Homo sapiens: one gene and its partners. The protein of the gene in region 3 purifies or fractionates together with the protein of the main gene of each other region. This does not show direct contact. Each region holds a gene or a part of one and is shown on either strand. Other genes may lie near its edges. The genes, in order: ABHD12, LETMD1, SLC39A12 and SREBF2.

The links.
Region 1: the proteins of SLC39A12 (region 3) and ABHD12 purify together in Homo sapiens (co-immunoprecipitation; 4 studies listed by BioGRID and IntAct, with this or other methods). This does not show direct contact.
Region 2: the proteins of SLC39A12 (region 3) and LETMD1 purify together in Homo sapiens (affinity purification with mass spectrometry; 3 studies listed by BioGRID and IntAct, with this or other methods). This does not show direct contact.
Region 4: the proteins of SLC39A12 (region 3) and SREBF2 purify together in Homo sapiens (affinity purification with mass spectrometry; 3 studies listed by BioGRID and IntAct, with this or other methods). This does not show direct contact.

Annotation. Positions count from the first base shown.
Region 1 is NC_000020.11:25,380,815-25,387,846, forward strand, and holds part of ABHD12 (lysophosphatidylserine lipase ABHD12), read right to left. Parts: intron 1-7,032.
Region 2 is NC_000012.12:51,051,320-51,058,351, forward strand, and holds part of LETMD1 (LETM1 domain-containing protein 1), read left to right. Parts: intron 1-768; exon of another isoform or gene 769-772; coding exon 773-888; coding exon of another isoform or gene 889-927; intron 928-2,458; coding exon 2,459-2,541; intron 2,542-4,515; coding exon 4,516-4,702; intron 4,703-4,824; coding exon 4,825-4,926; intron 4,927-5,030; coding exon 5,031-5,183; intron 5,184-6,686; coding exon of another isoform or gene 6,687-6,712; coding exon 6,713-6,809; intron 6,810-7,032. UniProt on the Homo sapiens protein: Plays an essential role for mitochondrial structure and function, as well as thermogenesis of brown adipocytes.
Region 3 is NC_000010.11:18,038,887-18,043,786, reverse strand, and holds the end of SLC39A12 (zinc transporter ZIP12 isoform 1 precursor), read right to left. Parts: intron 1,083-4,900; coding exon 954-1,082; 3' UTR 502-953; downstream 1-501. UniProt on the Homo sapiens protein: Uniporter that promotes Zn(2+) import from the extracellular space to the cytoplasm across the cell membrane. The transport activity is temperature dependent. May play a role in neurulation and neurite extension.
Region 4 is NC_000022.11:41,899,076-41,906,107, reverse strand, and holds part of SREBF2 (sterol regulatory element-binding protein 2), read right to left. Parts: intron 6,872-7,032; coding exon of another isoform or gene 6,712-6,871; exon of another isoform or gene 5,986-6,711; intron 5,779-5,985; coding exon 5,610-5,778; intron 5,165-5,609; exon of another isoform or gene 5,096-5,164; intron 3,139-5,095; coding exon 2,953-3,138; intron 1,246-2,952; coding exon 1,134-1,245; intron 669-1,133; coding exon 448-668; 3' UTR 1-447.

The DNA of each region.
Region 1 (7,032 bases), on a different chromosome or scaffold from region 3:
CCCTAACCTCCCCCTTGAACTCTATCCCCTATCCACCTGGATGTTTAACAGGCACCTCAATATGTCCAAAACCAAACATTACTTCTCCTGCCCCAAAGCACTTGCTCTTTCCACATCTGTCCCCATCTCAGTATCTGGCAACTCCATTCTTCCTGTTGCTCAGAAAGTAGTTTGTGAATCCAGAATCACATGCCTCTTCTTATCTCCACAGCTGCTGTCCCGGCCTGAGCCCCTGTCATCTCTTGCCTGGATGACCCTGGCAGCCCCTAGCCGGTCTCCCTGCTTGCCCACCGCAGTCTGTGCTTGTCACACAGTCAGAGTGACATGATGACACACACCATGCCATTTCTCTAGCAGCCAGTGGCATCCATTCACATGTCTCCTTGTCAGAAACATCCCCTGTACACCCAGACTGTGCACACACAGCCACAGGGCCTCATCTGCGGCTATTCCCTCACTGGCACCATTTTCCTCCTTAGTGCCCTAAGCACATGACATCATGTGTTTCTTCATGTTTTATCTGCCTCCCCTACCAGAATGTAAAGGCCAGGAGAACTGCAACGGCCTCAGCATTCACAGGTGTTACTGGGCGTAACAGGTACTCAAACTGTTAAATGAGTGGCTGGAAAAAAGTGTTAAATAAGCAAATAGTATTGCTACAAATGCTCTAATACCAACAGACACATTAACTGATCAGGATGGACCCTATATGCACGACTGGCTGAGAAGCCAGACTCTTAATTGTTTGGGGCAGAAAAGGGTAGAAGAAAATCCTTCTAGACATGAGCTAACAGATCTTTCTCAGTACCCTCTTTTTTTTTTTTTTTCCTTGTTTTGTTTTTGAGACAAAGTCTCGCTCTGTCACCCAAGCTGGAGTGCAGTGGTGCAATCTCGGCTCACTGCAGCCTCCACCTCCTGGGTTCAAGCGATTCTCCTGCCTCAGCCTCCCAGGATTACAGGAGATAATCCCTCACCTGGGATTACAGGTGCTCACAACCTCACCTGGCTAATTTTTGTCTTTTTAGTAGAGATGGTGTTTCACCACGTTGGCCAGGCTGGTCCTGAACTCCTGAACTCAAGTGATCTGCCTGCCTCGGCCTCCCAAAGTGCTGGGATTACAGGCATGAGCCACCACACTGGCCAGTACCCTGAGCTCTTAATATTATAATCATCATGGGGCTAGTCATCTAGAAGATGTCACTGACCAAGCACTCACCATGTGCCAGGAACATTCCACACACCTGGGCCTCACCACAATCCTACAGGGAAGACACTCTTATCCCTACATCACAGATGAAGAAACAAACTCAGAGTGTTACACAACTCACCCAAGCCAGAGAATCTGAAAACTCACCTGAGACCTGGGTCTCTATGAAGGCTATCCTCTGAAGCAGTAAATCACAATACAAAGGGGCTGAGGCCTAAATGAGAAGTCTTGCTGGTAATGGGACAGTTTGGTTCCGGCATCCTGGCTCTTGGCCCCTGTTCACTGACTGACACTCTAGACGCTGGCTCTCGGTGTGGCACGAGATAGATGGCTTACCCACTCTCATGCTGAAAGGGCCCCTGCCAAAGCACAAGCACACTGAGACCAAAGTCCTGTGGCGTCATCTCTGGGTGAAGAGCATTGACTTCATCTGTCAGCTTTTGAGGTTATATTTCAATAAACATTTTCCCTGCAGATTTCACTCTGGAAGGACAAGTGTTCTAATGGAAGAGGAGAGAAAGGAGGGGAACGAAGAGGAGGAGAAGTTGCAGCAGCGGGAGTCTGAAATGAGGTCCTGTCTCCATCGCTGTTAGCACAAACCTGACAAGATGACCCATCTTCCATGCCTCTCTCCAAGGCTTCCTCCATGAAAGTGCCTCAGGTGCTTTCAGCCTGCCCAAAGATACCCCTCACAGTTCAGGCCTGTCTGCCAAAGTCACCATAGAAGGCGGACACTCCCTTGGGAAGGGTCACTGTGGCTGAAAGGAACTAGGAACCAAGCAGAGATACAGGATGCAGAGTCCTAATAAAGCAGAAGGCAGTGGCAAAGCACCAAGTCCCAGTGTGGCCAGTCCCTGGCTGGAGTGCAGCATTGATAAGGTACACTGAGTTAGGAAGAGGAAAACCAGTACCAGTTGAGGGGGGGGGCCAGCTATGGCGCCATAAACAAAGCCAGCCCCATGCCTTGTCACAGTCCTGGCCCAGACTGTACTGAGGGTGGAGCAAAAGGAAAAAGGAGATGGATGAAGCAGACTTTAACCACAAAAGCTAGCTCAGAACTCGCTCCCATCTTCCTAATCTGTAAAGAAAAGATGAAGAGATACCATACAGGGACACTTAGAGGGTGAGGTTGATACTGAACCTCGGGAAGGCTGACACTGAAGAAGACAGATGTTAACCTCAGCCACCCACTCTTCTGGGTTAGGGGGAAGCCATTAGCAACCTTGGATAAAGTATCTTCTTTGGGTAAAGGAAGAAATAGGTGTGATGACTATGTTCTTTGGCATTTACGTATGAGGGTGATCTGGCTATGAAACCTCCCATGCAGCCCACTGATCTCTGTCAATCCAGCAGATCTGGCCTGTCGGTTGGGAGTTGGAGGATAAAGACTAGGTAACACACAGACCGTGTACATCTCATGACTGCCTTCTCAGGGTCCAAATTAGACCAGTCATGCCTTCAATGCACATTCCCAACAATTCCAGGGCTAATGAAAGGCCCACAAAATCCCTCATTTGGGCTGGGCGCGGTGGCTCACGCCTGTAATCCCAGCACTTTGGGAAGCCGAGGCAGGCGGATCACAAGGTCAGGAGTTCAAGACCAGCCTGGCCAATATGGTGAAACCCCGTCTCTACTAAAAATATAAAAATTAAGGCCGGGCACAGTGGCTCACCCCTGTAATCCCAGTACTTTGGGAGGCCAAGGTGGGCGGATCATGAGGTCAGGAGTTCAAGATCAGCCTGACCAACATGGTGAAACCTCGTCCCTACTAAAAATACAAAAAATTAGCCAGGTATGGTGGCGTGCACCTGTAATCCCAGCTACTCGGGAGGTTGAGGCGGGAGAATCACTTGAACCTGGCACACGGAGGTTGCAGTGAGCCGAGATCACGCCACTGCCCTCCAGCCTGGGCAACAGAGGGAGACTCTTTCTCAAAAAAAAAAAAAAAAAAAAGAAAAAAAAGAAAAAAAATTAGCCGGGCATGGTGGCGGGCGCCCATAGTCCCAGCTACTCAGGAGGCTGAGGCAGGAGAATCGCTTGAATCTGGGAGGCAGAGGTTGCAGTGAGCCGAGATCACGCCACTGCACTCCAGCCTGGGTGACAGAGTGAGACTCTGTCTCAAAAAAAAAAAAAAGAAAAAAAAAAATCACTCATTTGCCCAGTACCTCCTCACACCAGATACCATGCAAAGCAAAACTGATCTAGTTCCTCGTCTCAAGGAGTACAGAGTTGACCTATGAATGAGATAAATATTTACCTTTAAAAATTATCTTTTGGCCCAGAATTTAAAAACAAAAAAAACTGGTTTGGGGTTTTTTTTTTAACCTCCAAAATTGTTCTCATCTGAGTTACTTACCAATGTTAAAAAAGTTGGCAATACTACACACACACACACAAGCACACACACTAAGACAAAAAAAAAACTATATAAACAAACAAAAGGCCGGGTGCACTGGCTCATGCCTGTAATCCCAGCACTTTGGGAGGCTTAGGCGGGTGGATCACTTGAGCTCAGGAGTTCAAGTCCAGCCTGGGCAACATGGCAAAACTCTGTCTCTACAAAAAATACAAAAATTAGCTAGGCATGGTGGTGGGTGCCTGTAGTCCCAGCTACTTGTAAGGCTGAGGTGCGAAGACCATTTGACCCTGAGAGGCAGAGGCTGCAGTGAGCCATGACTGCACTGCAGCACTCCAGTCCGGGTGTAGAGCCAAACCCGATCTCAAACACAAAACAAAACAAACTAAAAAAAACACCAGCTAGTCTTTTCCAGAAAGACTGGACAATCTGGCCACTCTGGGACCACATTCCTGCCAGGCAGCAACAGGACAGGGTGTGGTAGCTGCTGTCCCCTTCAGAAAGAACCTGTTCTCTCCACTTCTCAGCATCCCCCAGAACTAAAAAGAGATATTTTCTTTGATGGAGCACAAAACATGTGTGTGTGTGTATGTGTGTGTGTATATATATTTCCCCACTTCAGTGTATGTATGGATATTAGATATATTACTGACTAGCCTAAATCAGGAGGAAAAAGCAGGCCAGGCGCGGTGGCTCACGCCTGTAATCCCAACACTTTGGGAGGCCAAGGCGGGTGGAACATCTGAGGTTGGGAGTTTGAGACCAGCCTGACCAACATGGAGAAACCCTGTCTCTACTAAAAATACAAAATTAGCTGGGTGTGGTGGCACATACCTGTAATCCCAGCTACTCGGGAGGCGGAGGCAGGAAAATCGCTTGAAACTGGGAGGCGGAGGTTGCAATGAGCCAAGATCATGCCATTGCACTCCAACCTGGACAACAAGAGTGAGACTCAAAAAAAAAAAAAAAAAAAAAAAAGAGGAAAACGGAGGAAAAACCCTAATTACAAAAAACAGGGAAGAAAACTAGGGAAATGGCCATAGCTACAGAGGAGAAAAGGTGAATTAAATTGGTAATTTTATAAGAATACATAAACCACCAAAACTGAAACCAGGACATAGCAAATTCTAAACAGACGTAGAAGACACTGTAGTAGTTACCGAAGTGCTATATTCTGAAACAGCACTGGCTAGGGTGGTGGCTCATGCCTATAATCCCAATACTTTGGGGGACAGAGGTGGAAGGACTGCTTGAGAGAGAAGTTCAAGACCAGCCTAGGCAACGTGGCAAGACCTGCCTGTACCAAAAAATTTAAATAAATAAATAAATAAATAAATAGAAAGGCACCAGGCTTAGACAGTTTTACAAGAGAATTTCTACCAAATTTTAAACAAATAATTTAAAAAATTCTTAAGCTGGCTAAAAGTTTAGAATAAAATGGCCGGGTGCGGTGGCTGACACCTGTAATCCCAGCACTTTCGGAGTCCAAGGCAGGCGGATCACGAGGTCAGGAGATTGAGACCATCCTGGCTAACACGGTGAAACCCCGTCTCTACTAAAAAAAATACAAAAAATTAGCCAGGTGTGTTGGTGGGCACCTGTAGTCCCAGCTACTTGGGAGGCTGAGGCAGGAGAATGGCGTGAACCCGGGAGGCAAAGCTTGCAGTGAGCCAAGATCGCGCCACTGCACTCCAGCCTGGGTGATGCAGCGAGACTCCGTCTCAAAAAAATAATAATAATAATAATAAAAATAAAAGTTTAGAATAAAATGTTATGTAAGAAACTTTTTACAAAGCTATAGAAAACACTAAAACAACTTGATAAAGGTTGCATAAGAGAAAATTACAGACTATTCTCACAAATGATGTAAAATTTCTTTTTCTTTCTTTTTTTTTTTTTGAGATGGAGTCTTGCTCTGTCGCCCAGGCTGGAGTGCAGTGGTGCAATCTGGGCTCGCTGCAAGCTCCACCTCCCGGATTCATGCCATTCTCCTACCTCAGCCTCCTGAGTAGCTGGGACTACAGGCGCCCGCCACCACGCCTGGCTAATTTTTTTTGTATTTTTTAGTAGAGACGGGGTTTCACCCGTCAGCCAGGATGGTCTCGATCTCCTGACCTCGTGATCAGCCTGCCTCGGCCTCCCAAAGTGCTGGGATTACAGGCGTGAGCCACCGAGCCCGGCCTCATGATGTAAAATTTCAAAATAAAATATTAATAAATAGGCCAGGTGCGGTGGCTCACGCCTTATAATCCCAGCATTTTGGGAGGCTGAGGCAGGCAGATTATCTGAGGTCAGTAGGTCGAGTCCAGCCTGGTCAACATGGCAAAATCCCGTCTCCATTAAAAATACAAAAATTAGCCGGGCATGGTGGCAGGTGCCTGTAATCCCAGCTACCCGGGAGGCTGAGGCCAGAGAATTGCTTGAACCTGGGAGGCAGAAGTTGCAGTGACCCGAGATCGTGCCACTGCACTCCAGCCTGGGCAACAGAGTGAAACCCCGCCTCAAAAAATAAAAATAAAAAATAAATGAATAAATAGAATCTGGCTATACAATAAGAGAGTTTATCCCAGGAATACAATGATGATTCAATAATATAAATCCATTACTATAACTCATTATGTTAACAGATAAAAGAAGAAAATCTCTATGATCATTCCACAGATGTACACTGGCATTTGAGAAAACTCAATCACCATTTTTTATTTTAAAAACATCAGTGAGGGAGCAGGAACAAAAACAAAAAGCTCCCCACAACATTAGCAACACACCCCAGCATGGCACTTAAATGGCAAAAACACTAACAGCATTCTCATTAAAGTCAGGAATGAAACAAGTTACTCAGTGTCATCCCTATTATTTAACTTTGTTCTAGAAATACAATGCAATCAGAAAAGAAAAAGAGGTCAGACATGGTGGCTCACACCTGTAATCCCAACACTTTGGGAGGCCGTGACAGGGAGATCACTTGAAGTCACGAGTTGGAGACCAGTCTGGCCAACATGGTGAAACCCCATCTCTACAAAAAATACAAAAATTAGCCATGTGTGGTGGCACATGCCTGTAATCCCACCTTCTCGGGAGGCTGAGGCAGGAGAATTTAGGCCTGGCACGGTATTTCATACCTAACACTTTGGGAGGCCAGGAAGAAGGATCGCTTGAAGCCAGAAATTCAAGACCAGCCTGGGGGCAACATAGTGAGACTTCATCTCTATTAAAAAAAAAAAAAAAAAATTAACCAGGAGTGGTGGCATACACCCAGCATCGATATGGGAGGATCGCCTGAGCCCAGGAGGTCTGGGCTGCAGTGGGCCATGATCATGCCACTGTGCTCCAGCCTGGGTGACGGAACTTTCTTAAAAAAAAAATTGTTTAAAAATATTCCAGGCCGGGCGCTGTGGCTCACGCCTGTAATCCCAGCAATTTGGGAGGCCGAGGTGGGTGGATCACGAGGTCACGAGTTCGAGACCAG
Region 2 (7,032 bases), on a different chromosome or scaffold from region 3:
CTTGAACTCAGGAGGTGGACGTTGCAGTGAGCCGAGATTGCGCCACTGCACTCCAGCCTGGGCGACAGAGCAAAACTCCATCTCAAAAACAAAAATAAGTGTTCCAGGCCGGGCGCAGTGACTCATGCCTGTAATCCCAGCACTTTGGGAGGCCGAGGCAGGTGGATTGCTTGAGGTCAGGAGTTAAAGACGAGCCTGTCCACATGGTGAAACCCCATCTCTACTAAAAATGCAAAAATTAGCCAGGCATGGTGGCACACGCCTGTAATCCTAGCTACTTGGGATTCTGAGGTGGGAGAATTATATAAACCTGGGAGGTGGAGGTTGCAGTCAGCCGAAATCGCACCACTGCACTCCAGCCTGGGCAACAAAGTGAGATTCCATCTCAAAAAAAAGAAAAAAAAAGTTCCAGAAAGGAGATTAAATTAATATCTGGCTGGGGAATACATAGGGTTAATTTAGCAAGACTTTCTGAAGTTAGGGAGCTTGATTTTTAAAAAGGAGTGACCAGTGAAACAGAAGAGGGAGACCATTCCATAGCAGATTACAGAAGCCAAATGTAGCTAGAAGAGAGGCGATGTGCTAGGGGAAAAAATGTTGAGAAAAGAGATTCGAGTTGACCTCAGGAGTTTCAAGTTACCTAGTTTAAAGCTTTGAGTATCGTTGGGGAGGGGTGAGAGTGTTTGCATGTGATTGAACATGGAGTAGGAAGCTGTGGTTAAGATTTAAACTGGGATAACATCACACTCTGTCCTCTACTTTAATGAGGCAGGATTGCAGATGTTATGGGCTGATGCCAAAAAGGCTAGAAGAATAAAGACAAATATGTGGAAGCACAATATAAAGTTTCATCAACTTCCATACCGGGAGATGGAGCATTTGAGACAGGTATGGGCCAGGGGCAGATATCCAGAAGTTCATGGTGAGGTAATTACATTTAATCAAGATCTCAAGGTTTTTTCTTTCATTTGTTGTTCACCATTGATCAAGCTTTTGCCCTTTGCCGTGAGAACAAAATATTGAACTGAATGAGGCATCAGATTATTTGTAAGAATTGGGTTCATCCAGAGTTGTAGCCCTCCATAGCAAGAGCTCCATAGAATTTCTGGCACACTTTCTGAATGAAAGTTGTAAATACTAAAATCTAATTAGTTTCTGAACATAACAAAAGTCTGCAAGGGGGCTGGGCGCGGTGGCTCACGCCTGTAATCCCAGCACTTTGGGAAGCCGAGGCAGGCAGATCACGAAGTCAGGAATTCGAGACCAGCCTGGCCCACAAGGTCAAACCCCATCTCTACTGAAAATACAAAAATTAGCTGAGTGTGGTGGCGGGCGCCTGTAATCCCAGCTACTCGGGAGGCTGAGGCAGGAGAATCGTTTGAACCCGGGAGGCAGAGGTTGCAGTGAGCCAAAATCATGCCATTGCACTCCAGCCTGGGTGACAGGGCAAGACTCCATCTCAAAAAAAAATAATAATAAAATGAAAATAGAAGTCTGCAAGGGCAGCCAGGCACAGTGGCTCTCGCCTATAATCTCAGCATTTTGGGAGACTGAGGTGGGCGGATCACCTGAGGTCAGGAGCTTGAGACCAGCCTGGCCAACATGGTGAAACCCCATCTCTACTAAAAATTCAAAAATTAGCTGGGCATGATGGCAGGCGCCTGTAGTCCTAGTCCCAGCTACTCGGGAGGCTGAGGCAGGAGAATTGCTTGAACCTGGGAGGCGGAGGTTGCAGTGAGTGAAGATCGCGCCACTGCACTCCAGCCTGGGTGATAAGAGCAAAACTCTGTCTCAAAAAAAAAAAAGTCTGCAAGGATCCAAAGGGCAGCATGAAAGTAGTATTTGGTGGTGACTTGATGGGTCGTTTTGAAGCTGAGAGTAAGAATCTAGGACCCATTCCGCAGATCAGGAAGAGTTCACTGAAGGATTTGGTATAATGTCAGGCTCTGTACTAGACATTATTTGGGATACAAAAGTAAATAAGTCAGAGGTTTTGTCCTCAAGGAACTAACCATCCAGAAGTAAATAGAAATAAACTTGGGGACCACATGCAGTGCTCATGCCTGTAATCCTAGCACTTTGGGAAGCCAAGGCGGGCAGATCACTGGAGGTCAGGAGATTGATACCAGCTTGTCCAACATGGTGAAACCCTGTCTCGACTAAAAATACAAAAGTTAGCCTAGAGTGGCGGCTTATGCCAATAATCCCAGCTACTCGGGTGGCTGAGGCAGGAGGATCACTTGAACCCAGGAGGCAGAGGTTGCAGTGAGCTAGGATTGCACCACTGCACTCCAGCCTAGGTGACAGAGCAAGACTCCATCTCAAAAAGAAAAAGAAAGAAATTTGGTCCTTTTTCTGGGCTGTAATAGAAGTTTACTGTACAGTGGGGTGGATGGATTGTCTATTGTATTAACAACTTATTTGGGTTAAAACTGCATCTGTGTTTATTTCTGCTTAGTTCCGCCAAGACGTCACCAAGTGTCTTTTCCTAGGTATTATTTCCATTCCACCTTTTGCCAACTACCTGGTCTTCTTGCTAATGTGAGTACAGACTTCCATCTCCCCAACATCTTGAAGATGTATCAATTTTTTTAAATTAAGAATTACTTTAAACAGCACTCATTTCAGAAGATAGGCAGAGGTTATCAAACTTCTGCTCCAATCTTCTCATTATTCCAAGGTTCATAAAAACCACTTAGGAAGACCTTGGTTACTGTGACACATCACAGCTATAAGTGTAGGTGGCCTAGACTCTCCCTATCTCTTAGCTGCCCTGAGTCATGTGAAATAAGATAGTGACCTTCTCCATCATCCCTAGAGGCTCTCTCCCCGAGAGAGAGTACTTTTAGACTAATTTCTTTAGGAAAAGTACATTTCGTATTCTGATAACATTTTTATTACTTCATATCCAAAAATGACATTTCTTAACTGTGATCTTGCATGTCATTCATTATCTATTGCTGTATAACAAATAACTTCAAAGCTTAATAGCATAAAACAATCGTATAAATCATTTTCATGATTTTGTAGCTCAAGAATTAGGGCAGTGCTCAGGTGGGCAGTTGATTTCTCTCTTCCATATAGGGTTGACAGAGGTCCCTTAGTGATATTTAGCTGCTGAATGGACTAGTCTGGAAAGTCCAATATCACTCTTATGTCTGGTGCCCTGGCAGGGATGGCTACACGGCTAGAACTGTCAACCAGAGTGCCCAGATGTGGCTTCTTCAGTATGGCAGCCTCAAGATAGTGGGACTTCTAACTTGGGAGCTCAGGGCTCCAAGAGTGAGGGGTTCTAGTAAGAATCTACATGACTTTATAACCTTGTCTTGAAGGTCACATAGAGTCACTGCTGCTCTGTCCTATTGATTGAATCAGTCACCTAGAATGAAAAAAGGGCAGGATGTAGACCTCAGCTCTCCATGAGACAAGTGCCAGAGAATTTGAGGTCATGTTTTAAAACCACCAAACACGTAGATAAATAAATTAAAAAACAAATCGTGGCCAGGTGCAGTGGCTCACGCCTGTAATCCCAGCACTTTGGGAGGCCGAGGCGGGCAGATCACAAGGTCAGGAGATTGAGACCATCCTGGCTAACACAGTGAAACCCTGTCTCTACTAAAAATACAAAATACTAGCTAGGCGTGGTGGCGGGTGCCTGTAATCCCAGCTACTTGGGAGGCTGAGGCAGTAGAATCGCATGAACCCAGGAGGCAGAGGTTGCAGTGAGCCGAGATCGCGCCACTGCAGTCCAGCTTGGGTGACAGAGCGAGACTCTGTCTCAAAAAAAAAACAACAAATCAGTTGCCTTTTACATACTGGGTCCACATAAGGACTGTGCTATAGTTAGATTGTCAACATCACATATAGTGTCCTGGTCAGGCTGCAACTCTCTCCAAAGCATGCTCTTCACATGCTTTAGTTCAAAATGAGTCATTATATCTGATTGCTGCGTGGCAGGCTATTCTGCTAGTCCTTCCTTTCACATCCCATTTCAGTAATGGTGCTTGAAATTGTGCTTCAGTGTGTCTTATAAACTTTGGTCTGAGAGTCACTTAAGAGAAAGGGCTGACTGTAGTGGCTCTCACCAGTAATCCCAGCACTTGGGGAGACTGAAGCAGGAAGATTGCTTGAGACCAGGAGTTTGAGACCACCCTGGGCAATATAGCAAGACCCGTCTCTGCAAAAAAATTAAAAACTTAGCCAGGCATAGTGGCCTGTGCCTGTAGTCCCAGCTACTCAGTAGGCTGTGGTGGGAGGATTGCTTGAGCCTAGGAGGTCGAGGCTGCAGTGAGCTGTGATCTTGCCACTGTACTCCAGCCTGGGTGAGAGAGGGGACCCTGTCTCTTAAAAAAAAAAAAAAAAAAAAAAAAACTGAAAAAGAAAAAGAACACTGAGGTAGGGAAATAGTGTCTCCATCTCTTCTTCCTAGTATTCATGTCTACCAAATGCTTTCTTTGGCTTCCTCTGAAAGAAGCCAGTTTCAGCAAGTGAGTTTGTGATTCTTTCTCCTTTCAGGTACCTGTTTCCCAGGCAACTACTGATCAGGCATTTCTGGACCCCAAAACAACAAACTGATTTCTTAGATATCTATCATGCTTTCCGGAAGCAGTCCCACCCAGAAATTATTAGTTATTTAGAAAAGGTCATCCCTCTCATTTCTGATGCAGGACTCCGGTGGCGTCTGACAGATCTGTGCACCAAGGTATTCCTGCAGTTAACCCTTCCTACAAATGTGGAATCTTGTTAGATTCAGTGTGCACTAAACTAGGTAAGAGGAGTAGTCAGGACTTTCCTAACATCTACAAATCTCTTACCTCTTCCAAGATACAGCGTGGTACCCACCCAGCAATACATGATATCTTGGCTCTGAGAGAGTGTTTCTCTAACCATCCTCTGGGCATGAACCAACTCCAGGCTTTGCACGTGGTGAGCACTTTGAGGGCTTCTCTTTTCCATAGCATCACCATGTTTCAGGTGTTTGCTTGAGCTCATACTATTTGCCTTTCCCCTCCTATGTGGTTGTGTTACAGAAAGCCTTGAGCCGGGCCATGCTTCTCACATCTTACCTGCCTCCTCCCTTGTTGAGACATCGTTTGAAGACTCATACAACTGTGATTCACCAACTGGACAAGGCTTTGGCAAAGCTGGGGATTGGCCAGCTGACTGCTCAGGAAGTAAAATCGGTAAGAGCTTGATTGCAACATCAACCCTCAACCCTTGGTGTGCTTTTGAGCCTATGGCAGGCCGGAGGTTTACAGGGGCTCCTTGTCTTGTTTGTTTATAGAACCCAGCTTCTTTATTCTCTCACTTCATTTATTTATTTATGATTTATTTTTATTTATTTATTTATTTTGAGACAGAGTCTCATTCTGTTGCCCAGGCTAGAGTACAGTGGCACAGTCTTGGCTCACTGCAACCTCTGCCTCCCGGTTCAAGTGATCCTCCTACCTCAGCCTCCCAAGTAGCTGGATTACAGGTGTGCACCACCACGCCCAGCTAATTTTTTGTATTTTTAGTAGAGATGGTTTCACCATGTTTGCCAGGCTGATCTCAAACCCCTGGCCTCAAGAGATCCATCAACCCAAAGTGCCGAGACTACAGGTGTGAGCTACCGCACCCAGCATATTTATTTATTTTTCAGTCTCACTATTTTAACCAAGCTGGTCTTGAACTCCTGGCCTCAAGCAATCCTCCCATCTTGGCCTCCTAAAGTGCTGGGAATACAGCCGTGAACCACTGTGCCCGGCCTTTTTAAAAATTATTTTTTAATTAGCCAGGAGTGGTGGCACATGCCTGTAATCCCAGGTACTTGGGAGGCTGAGACATGAGAATTGCTTGAACCCAGGAGGTGGATTGCAGTGAGCCAAGATCGCACCACTGCACTCCAGCCTGGGTGATAGAGTGAGACTCTGTCTCAAAAAAAACCCAAAAAATAAAATAAAATTATTTTTTATTTTTGTAGAGACAGGGTCTCACTATGTTGCCCAGGCTGGTCTTGAACTCCTGGGCTCAAGTGATCCTCCCGCCTTGGCCTTTCAAAGTGTTGGGATTACAGGCATGAGCCACTGCGCCCAGCTCCTCACCTCATTTCTGTGTCTTTTTTCTCAAGAAACTTAGCTAGGGGGAAGGAATTGCCCACAGAAATTTTGGTTTGTATTTCTTTTCTTCTGGCACTTCAGAAAGCAAGGATACTGCAGTTTAGACCTACTATTTTAGCTTATATAGGACTCTTTGCTTTTGTCATCTTGTCCATCACTAGTTTTCAAATTGCCATGAGGAAAGGCTTCATGTGGGAATGAGATTGTAACTTTTTTTTTTTTTTTTGAGACAGAGTCTCGCTCTGTTGCCCAGGCTGGAGTGCAGTGGCATGATCTTGGCTCACTGCAACCTCCGCCTCCCAGGTTCCAGTGATTCTCCTGCCTCAGCCTCCCGAGTAGCTGGGACTGCAGGTGCATGCCACCACGCCTGGCTAATTTTTGTATTTTTTAGTAGAGATGGTGTTTCACCATATTGGCCAGGCTGGTCTCCAACTCCTGACCTCGTGATCCGCCTACCTCGGCCTCCCAAAGTGCTGGGATTACAGGCACGAGCCACCGTGCCCGGTGAGATTGTAACTTATTTAAAGGAGATTTAGGATTGTTTGTGGATTTCCATTTCCTTGGCATAATCATTCTATGATTATTAAGGACCATTTCTGTTCTGAGTGGTATAGGCTTGTTATCTCCGTGGCCTGAATTCTACGCATATTGGTGAAGATAGGTGTCGAACTTGGCTGGGAGAATGGCTGCAGATTTCCTGCAGCCTGAAAGGTAAAACACATTTCTGTGGTTATACCACTAAAATCCAAGTCACTTTTGTATTTTATTCTGAGGTCATTTTGGAGTTAATTATTGAGTACTGTGAGACATATATATACATACATCTAATTGAAAGGGCACAAACTCACATGCCTACTGCATGCCCGGCAGGTAACGAAGTAGGCCATAAGACAAGAGGGAGTAGTGGGGACTGTGGAAACCTAAGAGTGAATGC
Region 3 (4,900 bases):
AAATAGCATTTAAAAAATAAGAAAAATATAAGGCATCTGTTTTCTAAGAAAACTGACTAAAGCCAGGGTTATTTTCTGTTTCAACACTTTCGCTAGGTTATCAGTAAATTGCATGTACATTTCATGAACTTACCTATTGAAATCCTGTTCAGGATTCTGTTTCCTCAGAAAGAAGATAAAATATATCTCACGTGTTAGTGAGATTATTCCCATAAATATTCTCTGTTAAATCTGTGAGAGTTTAGGCATTCATCTACTGCCTGACTCCAGTTTTGTTACTTTAAAAATTTTGAACTTCATCTTATGTTTCCAGCTCCCCTTGCCTGGAACAGATTTCATTTGACGACTTACATAGAAGAATGCTGACATGTTATCCTTTAGGTCTCCCAAAATGGCTTGTTCACAAGCGCTCTAGAGTCAGTGGGTGAACTATACATTGTTTTTTTAAGAGATGACTCAGAATCTGACATCCAGTAACAGAAGGTAATAAAAACCACCATATTAAAACTAGTCTTTATTACATTTGCTTGTCACTTAACTTGCTTATAGTTTATAATTGCACAGGGAAAAAAATTAACATCAAAAAGTTGCAGTTGATTTTACTCCAACAGGCATCTGTCCACTTTAAATTCTACAAACATTCTTTCTTAGGGAAAAAATCTATTTTTTAAAGTTTACTAAAATTCATGCAGAATTTACTAACTACTTTTTAAAAAGCAAGAGCTTCATCATGGTGTTGGAAACCAAAGACAAAATTTCAATTAAGGACAGTCTGATATTTATATGTTTCCAAAAATAAAACTGCATTATAAAATTAATAAGTTAATGAATTGAAAGAGACACACTTTGCCTAAGATAAAAAATTCTTAATTTAAAAATCATTATAGAGTGCAATGAAAGAAACAAAGTAAGACTATATAAATGCATTTTTGAAAGATGTTGAAGATCCTCACTTATATTTTAATATTTTGCTCATATATAGCCAAGAGCAGGAGAGAAAGCCAACCTAGGATCAATCCAAAGTTTTGCAGGAGAAACATCATCCAGGGTCGTTGTGTTTGAACATGAGTCATTTCAGGAAGCTAAAAAAAGAATAAAAAACCAGAATAAGATCCAGATATATTCAACTGCTGGGAAAAGCTTGGTGGGAAAACATGAGCGACTGTTATTCAGAACTTAATAACCTTTAAAATTCCCAAAACAGTTACAAAATGCTGAATACCTACTCTACCATGTCTTTGAAATGTAAGCTAAAAGTAAGCCATTTGATTGTGGTTATGAGGATCCCAGGATTGGCAAAGTCTTTTTTTTTTTTTTTTTTTTCTTTTGAGGCAGGGTCTTTGCCCTGTCACCCAGGCTGGAGTGCAATGGCTGCGATCACATTTCACAGCAACCTCCTGGGCTCCAGCAATCCTCTCACCTCAGCCTTCCAGGTGCGTGCCATTGCACCCAGCTAATTTTTGCATTTTTTTGTAGAGATGGGGTTTCCCTGTATTGCCCAGGCAGGTCTCAAGCTCCTGGGCTCAAGCAACCTGCATGTTGCGGCCTCCCAAAGTGCTGGGGCTTATAGGCGTGAGCCACTGCACCTGGCCTTTGGTAGAAGTCTTAAAATGACATAGTTACCAACCAAAAACAAACCCAACTCTTACTTTTCAGAAAATGTTTAAATGTGAAGTAAATAATGCATCAAAATTATTATTTTGGACTGTTCTATTAGGCTTATAGAACTACTATATGCACAGGTTGATGTAAGGCATATATACATATTATGGGAGGAGGGAGGAAGAAAAGGAGAGAGAGAGAGCGATGACTAAGATCCTCCTGATCTTTAGAACAGTAAGGACATTATCTCCTGTGGCTACATATATATATGTATACATATATACATATACATATATGTGTGTATATATATACATATACATATGTATGTACATATATATACGTATACATATGTATGTACATACATATACGTATACATATGTATATACATATAGACACATATGTATATACATATGTATACATATGTATACACATATATACATGTATATACATATATACACATATATACATATGTATATACATATATATACACATATATACATATGTATATACATATATATACACATATATACATATGTATATACATATATATACACATATATACATATGTATATACATATATATACACATATATATGGTGTGTGTATGTATGTGTGTGTGTATGTGTGCGTGTGTGTGTGTGTGTGTGTGTATATATATACATATATATATATATAAAGTTTTTTTTTTTTGAGACAGAGTCTCACTCTGTCACCCAGGCTGGAGTGCAGTGGTGGGATCTCAGCTTACTGCAATGTCTGCCTCCCGGGTTCAAGCAATTCTCCTGCCTCAGCCTCCTGAGTAGCTAGGACTACAGGCATGTGCTGCCACACTCGGCTAATTTTTGTATGTTTTGGTAAAGACAGAGTTTCACTGTGTTGACCAGGCTGTCCTGTGGCTATATTTTATTCTCAGAGAAACACATGGCAACTATTTCATGTTTGTGAAATGGCCTAACACCATTTAGAGGGAAGGGTTCACTCACGCATCTGTGTGAAGTGCCCCAAGGTGTATTTGTCTCAAATTATTTCAAAGCCCTCACCCTGAGAAGGTCAGAGCAAGCATACCTCTTTCATTACACAGTCATTTCCATTGGGACACAGGCTCGTGTCAACAAGGATTGGAGATTTAACTCAATCTTGCCATTTTGGGCCAGATCATCCTTCATTGTGAGACCCCTCTCCTGTCCATTAGAAGATGTTGTAGCAGTATCTATGGCTCCTACTAGATGTCAGCTGTGTCTCTGCCCACAATCATGGCAAGCAAAAATGCCTCCAGACACAGTCAAATTTTCTCTGGGGGATAAAAATCACCTCCAGTAGAGAACGACTCAGATTATTTTATCGATCAAATGAATGATCAAGGACTTTAGGTTTATGGCAATAGAAAATGGCTTGACACTTTTTTTTTTTTTTTTTGAGATGGAGTTTCACTCTTATCGCCTAGGCTGGAGTACAGTGGCATGATCTCGGCTCACTGCAACCTCTGCCTCCTGGGTTATGGCGATTCTCCTACCTCAGCCTCCCGAGTAGCTGGAACTATAGGCATCCACCACCATGCTTGGCTAATTTTGTATTTTTAGTAGAGACAGGGTTTCTTCATGTTGGCCAGGCTAGTCTTGAACTCCTGACCTCAGGTGATCCACCTGCCTTGGCCTCCTAAAGTGCTGGGATTACAGGCATGAGCCACCATGCCTGGCCAGGTTGACACATTTTTAAGTACATGGAGAGGAGCACCCTGAATGCTCTGTTTGAGATATTTCTTCATCTTAGGTAGTTATTTCAATGGCATGAGGGTGGTTTACTATGACCTGCCATCTCACATCCCGGCATGGAGCAATGGACTCAAAGACAAAGTAGGATCCAGAACTGCTCTCCTGGGTGGACCATTTTAAACAAATTACATGCTCTTTTGGTGTCTTTATGCCAGGTTTAAACATGTTATACTTTAGAAAAATCTTATCTGATTCATCAATTATAAATTCAAAATGCCATTTTGGAAAATCTATGGAATGTGGATAAAACAGTCTATATTTTCAATTTTGTAGTAAAGTGACTTAGCAAGAAGCAGCTGAAACATCTGATTTCATGTTTTATATATTACGTATATGTTTTAAATTACATATATTTAATGTTTGAACTATATGTAACTGTTGCAAGTTTCTCATATAGTTAACAATGGATTTATGACAAACTTTCCCCGTTTCCTCCTAAGTGGCGAATGAATATCTTTCATTTACTAAATGCCTTGATATTAGTTCAACATTCAGAGTGTTTTGGTTTCTAAATGCCTTGATATTAATTCAAAATCCACAGTGGACATGGCAGAATTCTAGATTAAGGCTTATATGTATAGGGAAGAAATAGTATTTGTTCTCAAAGAGCTTGCATTTGATGGTACTCTTGAGGGATTAACAAGGTACATACATGGGAATTTTCCAATACCTTGTTTTTCTTTTTTTTGATTCAGGGTCTCACTGTTGCCCAGGCTGGAGTGCAGTGATGTGATCATAGCTCACTGTAGCCGTGAACTCCTGGGCTCAAGCAATCCTCCCACTTCAGCCTCCTGGGTAGCTAAGACTGCAGGTGCATACTACCCTACCCAGCTAATTTTAAAATTCTTAGTAGAGACGAGGTCTTGCTATGTTGCCTAGGCTGATCACAAATGCCGGGGCTCAACTGATCTTCCTGCCTCAGCTTTCCAAAGTGTTGGAATTACAGGCATAAGCCACCATACTCAGCCCCAATCACTTTGATTCTCAATAGTTTTCAGTATTTTTTAATAGTTTTCTCCAAAGCCAGACAACATAGGCCACCACCTTCCTTTGTCCCAGTAAGCTGCATCTCAAACTGCATCTGTGAGACACAATCATACCATCTGTGGTCATTTACAGGCTCAAACCTTGATTACTCTAATTTCCAAATATGGAATAAGATCTTGTGTAGTTCCCTCTCCTCCTCCTCCTCCTCCTCATTTTTCAAACAAGATTATTAATTATCTTTTGTAAAACATGGCTGAATTAACAGCATATCCCATCTCTGTCCCTACTGCCACCTGGCTGTTCTTAGTCTTTGGTAAAGTACACAGTAGAAGTGTTTTCTGGAAAGGTTTTGTTTGCAAAGACTTATAAAGTATAGGTCATTTATTGAACCATCACGATTATTTTGAGTGGACTATTATGGAGAAAAATATTTTGGGCAAGATAGACGCATGGTAGTAAAAATGGTTCTGGTTCAAGAGATAGAATTTGAGATGACTTTTCAAATCATCAATATCTTCATGAACCTACATTTTGGAAAGC
Region 4 (7,032 bases), on a different chromosome or scaffold from region 3:
ATTCGTATAAAAAGGGGAGGGCATGCTGGGCACAGGCCTGAGGGCAACTGCTCCCTGGTGCTCAGAGACTGCTGTCCCCCAGAGAAAGCCTGATAAAAACTGAGGAAGCAAAAAGGAGAGAGTAGGGTTCAGGAGAGAGAAACTCAGGAAGGCTGGAGGCAGGGGCTTGGCAGCTTGGGAGCTCCCCCTGCTGCTATCAAGTCAGGGCTGCCCAGTTTCTGCCCTGCCACCTATCCTCTCACGCCCACCAGGCCCTGGACCATGGGCATCTAGTGACAGCAGCTTTAAGGGGCTCTGCCCAGGGGTGCACTGGCCTGAGTGGCCCAGAAGCCTCGGCAGGTGACAGCTAAGAAGACAAGGCTCTTCCCCACCACTCTCAGCGGGAAGATGCTGAGGGGGAGAGAGAGAAATCGAGAGAGAGGTGGAGGGGTGGGCTGAGCCTGGTGGTCAGGAGGCGGCAATGGCAGTGCCACCACCCAGCTTAACAATCATCTGCTGGCAGTCGTTGCAGGAGCGCCGGTCGCCCACCTTCTCCAGGGTGCGGGCAGCTTCGGCCAGCAGCACTGCCCGCTGGCCCGGGGAGGAGAGGAAGGAGAGGGGCAGGTGGCGGCAGGCCAGCAGGATGGCGGTGGCCCGCTCTCGCTGGCCGGGCCAGGCATCCACCTCTCCTGTGGGAAGGAGATGTGTGTCACAACCGAGAATCTACCATGAAGTTGGTGCAGTTCCTTGGCGTTACCTGGACTCATTCACTGAACGCTCACATCCATCCTGGGAGGTGGGGTCTGCTGCCCCACCCAATCCACGGAAAAGAAGTGAACTTGTCCAGCCTCTCACGGCCAGCCCGTGGTGGGGCTGAGATGGGCCCACATGACCTGGCTCGAGCTTCTGCTTCTATGCCTGCACCTGTGCTGGGACGCCACCCCAACCCTCCTTCCCTGATCACAGCATGACCCATGACCACCCCAACCCCTGCAACCCACCAAGGGCGGCCTCGGGCTTCTTTCATTCTCAGAGAGGCGAGAGGTGTGCTGGGCACCAATGCCAGATGTGGGAGCTGGGCTGGCCCCTCTTCTCCTCTCTTCCTAGGGCGCAGGGCCTGGCCCAGCCTGTGAGCTGGGGAGGGGTGGACTCACCGTGCTTGGTGCTCTGCGTGGTGCGCCGCCGCAGGCTGTGTTCCAGCAGCTGGTGGGTGCGGGTGGGGCTGGCTCCTGCCATCAGGCGCACGGTGGCTTCATGCAGGAACACCTGGGGAGGTGCCGGGGTGACATCCATCACACCCCTGGTCCCCACCCATCTATGCCCAGGGTAGCTCTCCCTGAGCCATCTCGCCTGCCACCTCATGACATCCCTTCCCACACCACCCTGCCTTGCTCACCCCTGAAAAGCAACCTCTGTTGTCCCGTACTCTGACCCTGAGCCAGGCAGGAAACCTGGCTGAACAGCAGGAGCAGGATGAGAGGAGAGAGAGGCAAAAGGCCTGCTTTTCCCAACTGGTGACAAGAAAGCCCTGGACGCACCTCGTGGGGCTGGTAGACAAGTGCCCTGGGTGAAGCCCCAAGGCCCTGGAGGCTGCCTGCAGTTTGACAAAAGGACAGGTGTGACAGGGACAGAGGGGTGAGGAGGGACAGTTGGGCTGGTACCAGAGAGGTTTGGTATCCTCTTTCCGTATCTTTAGAAAGGAAGAGAGTCTAGAGGTGTGCGGGTAAAGTCTGCAGCGCTTAGGTATGAGCCACTGGTGGGTGAAGGGCAAGGCTGAGGTCTGTCATTTCTTAAAATCTCAAGCTCTTTTTGATGCCTTTATATCTCAGTCTTCAGGGAGGGTCTTCAGTGCTGCCAAGTGGATTCTGGTCCTGGTAGGCAATGGGGAGCCGCTGATGGGCTCTCAGCAGGGAGCAGCAGAATGGAAATGGTATTTAAGAGGAGGCCTTTGGACCAGGCGAGGTGGCTCACACCTGTAATCCCAGCACTTTGGGAGGCCGAGGCAGGAGGACAGCTTGAGGCTAGGGGTTTGAGACCAGCCTGGGCCACATAGCAAGACCCCATCTATTATGAAAAAAAGGCCACTGATGCCAGCCATGCTGTGAGCAGACCAGAGAGCTGACCAGAGTGGGCTCCAGGAGGCAGGGGTGCCGCTCCAGGCCTGGGGTACATGCCCTCTTCTCCACAGTAAGGAATGGCTCTCCGATGATACTGTCTGTTGTGTCTGTCTTGGCTTGCTGCACACAGTGGCCACAGTGCAACCCTGGGTGGGCCCCGCAGCACCTCAGGGTGATGGGTGTGGGGGCTGAATCCCAAGCTCCACGGCAGCAGCCTCGCTCTGAGGCCTTCTTCCAGCCCAGCCCGTGCCCCCTCAATGACACTTGAGTCATCTCACTCAAATTTTTAGAAAAAAATACAGGTACAAATATGTTGAATACATTATATAGCAATACAAATAAACAAAAAAGGAAATAGCTGGAGCCTGGCAAGCCCAGTCATAGAACTTTCCTCCGTGACTTAGTTCAGATCACGTGGCCACTGCCAAGGGGATGTTACCCAGCAGCAGAACCGAAGCCTCTAGCTACTGTGAAAAAGAATGAAAGTCAACGTGGAGCTCGGGACCAGGCCAGGAGCCCTGACTTGCCACCATTGCCCTCAGAGCCCTCCCACCCAGCATGTGCCTGGGGAGGCACAGCTCCCTGCTGGCCCCTGTCTGTGGCAGCAAAGTGTGGCCTGCTCCCTGCTGAGCTCCAGGGCCAGGCATACAGCAGGCACTCAACCAATGTGTGCTGAACACAGGGACACATGGCGCCTAGCCCAGTGTTGGGCACGAGCCAAGCAGGTGCTCGACAGGTCACCAGGCTGACCTCAGAGGGCCAACTCCACAACCACATGCTGGTGCCCATGCTGGGTTCTGGGCTCAGGCCCCACAGGCTCCAATCTGCCCTGCCCCACCAGCCAGCTGGGCCTCACCTTGCGGTATGCTGGGCGGAAGCTGTGTGCCAGCCTGCGCAGGCTGCCCAGGTCCCGTTGGAAGCCCGCCAGTTCAGCGCCTGACGCGTGGTAGGTCTCCCCCACAGCCTGGCTGGCACTGGCCTGTTTTTGCCAGAGCGCTGTCCGTAGCGACAGTAGCAGGTCACAGGTGAGCAGCTGGACCACCTGTGGGGTCAGCCACGAGAGAGGGGAGACAGGTGACTGGCCCATCCCTGAGGCAAGGATCCTAGCACCTACCAGGCCTCTCCCCAGACCAACACTCAGCAGCTCTGGGAGGAAGTGGAGAGCCCCAGAGTCTGGTGAACTCCGCAGGACGTGAGGGAACAGCTCAGGGGAGAACCAGTTCCTTCCATGGCCCCAGGAGGTGGGAGACAAGCCCTCCCCATTCTGCAGGTGAGAAAGCAAGGCTCTGACAGGGACAGCAGCTTGTATAGGGAATACAGCACAGGCAGGTGGCAGGGGCAGAAATAAAACCCTTGTGGGTTGAAGGCGCAGGTTCTTCCACCCCATGGGAGTCCCACCATGGCTGGCTAGGAGGCTGAGATACCCACAAGGTACCAAGGAAAAGCCTGAAGTGGCAGCAGAGCCTGTCGATGGGGCTGGGGGAAGGAGGAGGAGGAGTGGGAGAGGGAGACAGGTGTCTCAGAAGACAGAACCACAGAGTGCCTTAGTGCTTGGGGACTAGGCCTACTGACCCGGCTTTGCCACTTACTAGCTACATGACCCTGGCATAGGACTTAGTCTCTCTGAGCCTCAGTTTCTTCATTCAAAAAAATGTAAATGGCACCATCACAGGGCTGTTGTATCATATGAGAAGGTACTGCATGTGGGCCATGCATACTCTCTGCCTACGACCTATGGGGCTGGGCTGCCCACCCGGCTCGCAGTGGCACACCTGCACGACACCGAGCAGTGAGGAGTCCTTGTTGAGATGGGCCGCAAGCAGCCCTCCGGTCCTGATGAACTCCCTCAGGCTGAGCCTCATCTCACCCAGCCCTGGCTTTCCTCCTTCCCAGGACACTGGGCCTGAGGAAGACCCTGCCCTGTCCCTGCACAAGGCCTTGATCCTTGCCTACACTGTTTTCTGGCTGTTGTGTGCTTCAAGGGGATGTGGAAAAGGATCCCTCTCCTCAAAACCTGGCACTTCTAAGCTGTGCATGCTGCAGAAGCACCTGTGGGCATGGAGGCAGCAGGCCTATGTCTGGATTCTGCCCTCCGAGGGCCATCAGGCTGCATGGCGTTGTCTTCTAGGCTCACTTTCCTACCACAGAGCTGCTACCAAGGAACCCCAGTCCAAAGGGTGGCTGCAAGCCTCTCATTCCCCAAACTGAGCCTGTACTGTTTGGTTCTCTCATGAAGACAAATACGGAAGAGACTAATGGAAAGCCCAAAAGAGAAGGTGAAATGTGGCTCACCATCTGCCTTTGGTCTTGGCAGCCCAGGGCATTTGGGCACCCCCACCAGCTTTTTTTTAAAGATGGAGTCTCGCTCTGTTGCCCAGGCTGGAGTGCAGTGGTGCAATCTCGACTCACTGCAACCTCTACCTCCTGGGTTCAAGTGATTCTTCTGCCTCAGCCTCCTGAGTAGCTGGGATTACAGATACATGCCACCACACCTGGCTTATTTTTGTATTTTTAGTACAAACGGGGTTTCACCATGTTGGTCAGGCTGGTCTCGAACTCCTGACCTCAGGTGATCTGCCCACCTCAGCTTCCCAAAGTGCTGGGATTACAGGTGTGAGCCACCGCGTCCAGCCAGTTTGGGCCTTTTCTGCACATTGCCTGTCCCTGTAGGGGCTGCCACGCTGTCCTGGGTTCATCCCAGTGCCCAGGTCCACTGACAATATCTAGCTTGAAGTACTAGCCTAGCCAGCTAAGACCAAGCCCCAGGGAGTGGCTGAGAATCTGAATCTCCAGGACTCTCCCGGTCCCTCCCACTCTGGAGCTAAGGACATGTTCCCCGTAGACCAGGTGATGCTCCACTTTCAGCTGGGTGCCCTCCTGTTTCCTGGGATGGCTGTGACTTGGGCCCCAACAGTGGCAGCAGTGCCCTCTATCAGGATCCCCTCCCCCACCTGATAGGGCCTTCAGTCAGGGCAGTCTCTCGAGGGCCAGGCAGGCCTCTGTGATGCACTGTGGAAACATTGCATGGGTACCACCAGAACATGCAATGCAACTACAATGCACCACAGCTGCCCGCCAGGAGGTATGCGGCCAGCCAAGGAGGTGCCCAGGGTGGTCTTCAGCTCTGTTTGTGTGCCCGAGGGGGCAGGAACCCACTCCAAGGCTGCCTGCAGAGGCCTGGGAAGTCACGCAAACCGCTGGAGCAAATGCAGGTGAACCCCTGGCCAGCTGGGGTGCACCTGGGCTTACAGAGGCTATGGGCCAGCAGGACCTGGGACTCTGGGAGCCTAAGAAAGGTGCAGGTAGAAACACACTTGCCTCAGAGGCTGAAAAGGGATGAAAAAGGAGTCCACCTAGGCCAATAAGCCGTAACTTTTTTGAAAGGGGGCTGCTGTCCTGGTTTCTCTGTCTTTCGGATGGCCCCACCCGCAGGGTCAGCATGAGGTGAGTGGGAGTGTTCTCGTAAACCAGTGCAGAGCACCTCCCCCAGGGGCCAACTCAGCTCCCACTCACGTGGTTGAGGGCAGGGTCAGAGGTGGCCCCACTGACGTTGAGGCTGCTCCATAGGTGGCCACTGGCCCTCTCGCAATGGCAGAAGGAACTCTGCTGCCCATCTGCTTTCCCAGGGAGTGAGGCATGCATGGCTCTGCAGGCATGGAAGATGGCCTTCACCAGGGGGCTCCTGCAGCAGTGACAGGGAGTCGAGAGGCAGGTCACTATGTGTCACCTGCGTGACAGGCAGAGGGGCCCAAGCCAGTGACTGCCACGCCCCACACTGATATGACATGTGCATCTGTTGACTCCAATGCTGCCACTATGGCACCATGCCACCAGCTCCAGATCTGAAATGCCAGCCCTGAGCTAGGGTTAGCGCCCCACCCTTTAGCACCTTCATTCAATGCTGGAAGTCAGAGACACAGGCTTCACCATCACGTCTGCTGCTAAGAAGCCACCCAAGATAGTCATTCCAACGTGTGCCTCAGTTTCCTTACCTATAAAGTGGCCACAATAAGGTGTTGTACCCGTTCTTTAAGGGACCACCCCCCCAGAGATGTGGTATTAAACTCTCTGGAGATACTTAGTTAGCTTCTTTCTGTAGAGGAGACTGGGAGTGGAAGGGGAGGCTAGGGATGGGGGAGGGTTCTCATAGCATCCTAGTCCCTGAAAAGCAGAGGGACCCAGGGGTAAGTGAATCCAGCAGGCAGCAGTGCCTGCAGGGGTGTCTTGGCTGTCCATGGAAGCTCTGCTGCTCTGGAGCGAGGTGACTTTGGACAACTTACCTGCTGAGTCTCAGTGTCCTCAGGCACATCGACTGGGGGAGACACACATACAGGTGGAATGCTATACCGGGCTGGGTGCTTACCTAGTCAGAGTGCTTACAAATGGGGCTACTTCAATGAAATTAGGGTGTCACATCTACTTCAGGGAACAAAGGACTTCAAGCCTGTGTATACTCACTCTTCTCAGCTCCTTCCTGTGCGCCGGTTAAGGGTCTGCTTGATAGGAAATGCTACAGCCTTGGCTCTAAGGATAGGACCTCGTGGGGCCTTTCTGTCTTGGAGCATTTTACAGTTTCTCTTAGAATACTCAGATCCAATTAGAAACAGCCGGGGAGTCAGCAGGCAGGGCTGCCCATCACTAGTGCCGAATGCCCCCAAGACGCAGACATGAATCTCCAAAGAGGAATGTCAAAAGCTCTCCGGTTATGCCATGTGCTAAAGGCTATTTTAGTTACAGGACAAAGTTGCCAGGGTTGATGGTGGGGGTGGAGGTGGCTGGAAGGAAAGTGGATAAAATGCTAGCACACAGGGGCAAGATGCTCCAGTGCACATGAGTTTTGGGGGCAACAGTGGCCTCTCTGCACTGATTGTGAACCACCAGTGCCTGCCTCCACCACAAAGCTTCTGAAGATGCTGGGGGCCACACTGCTCTCGTC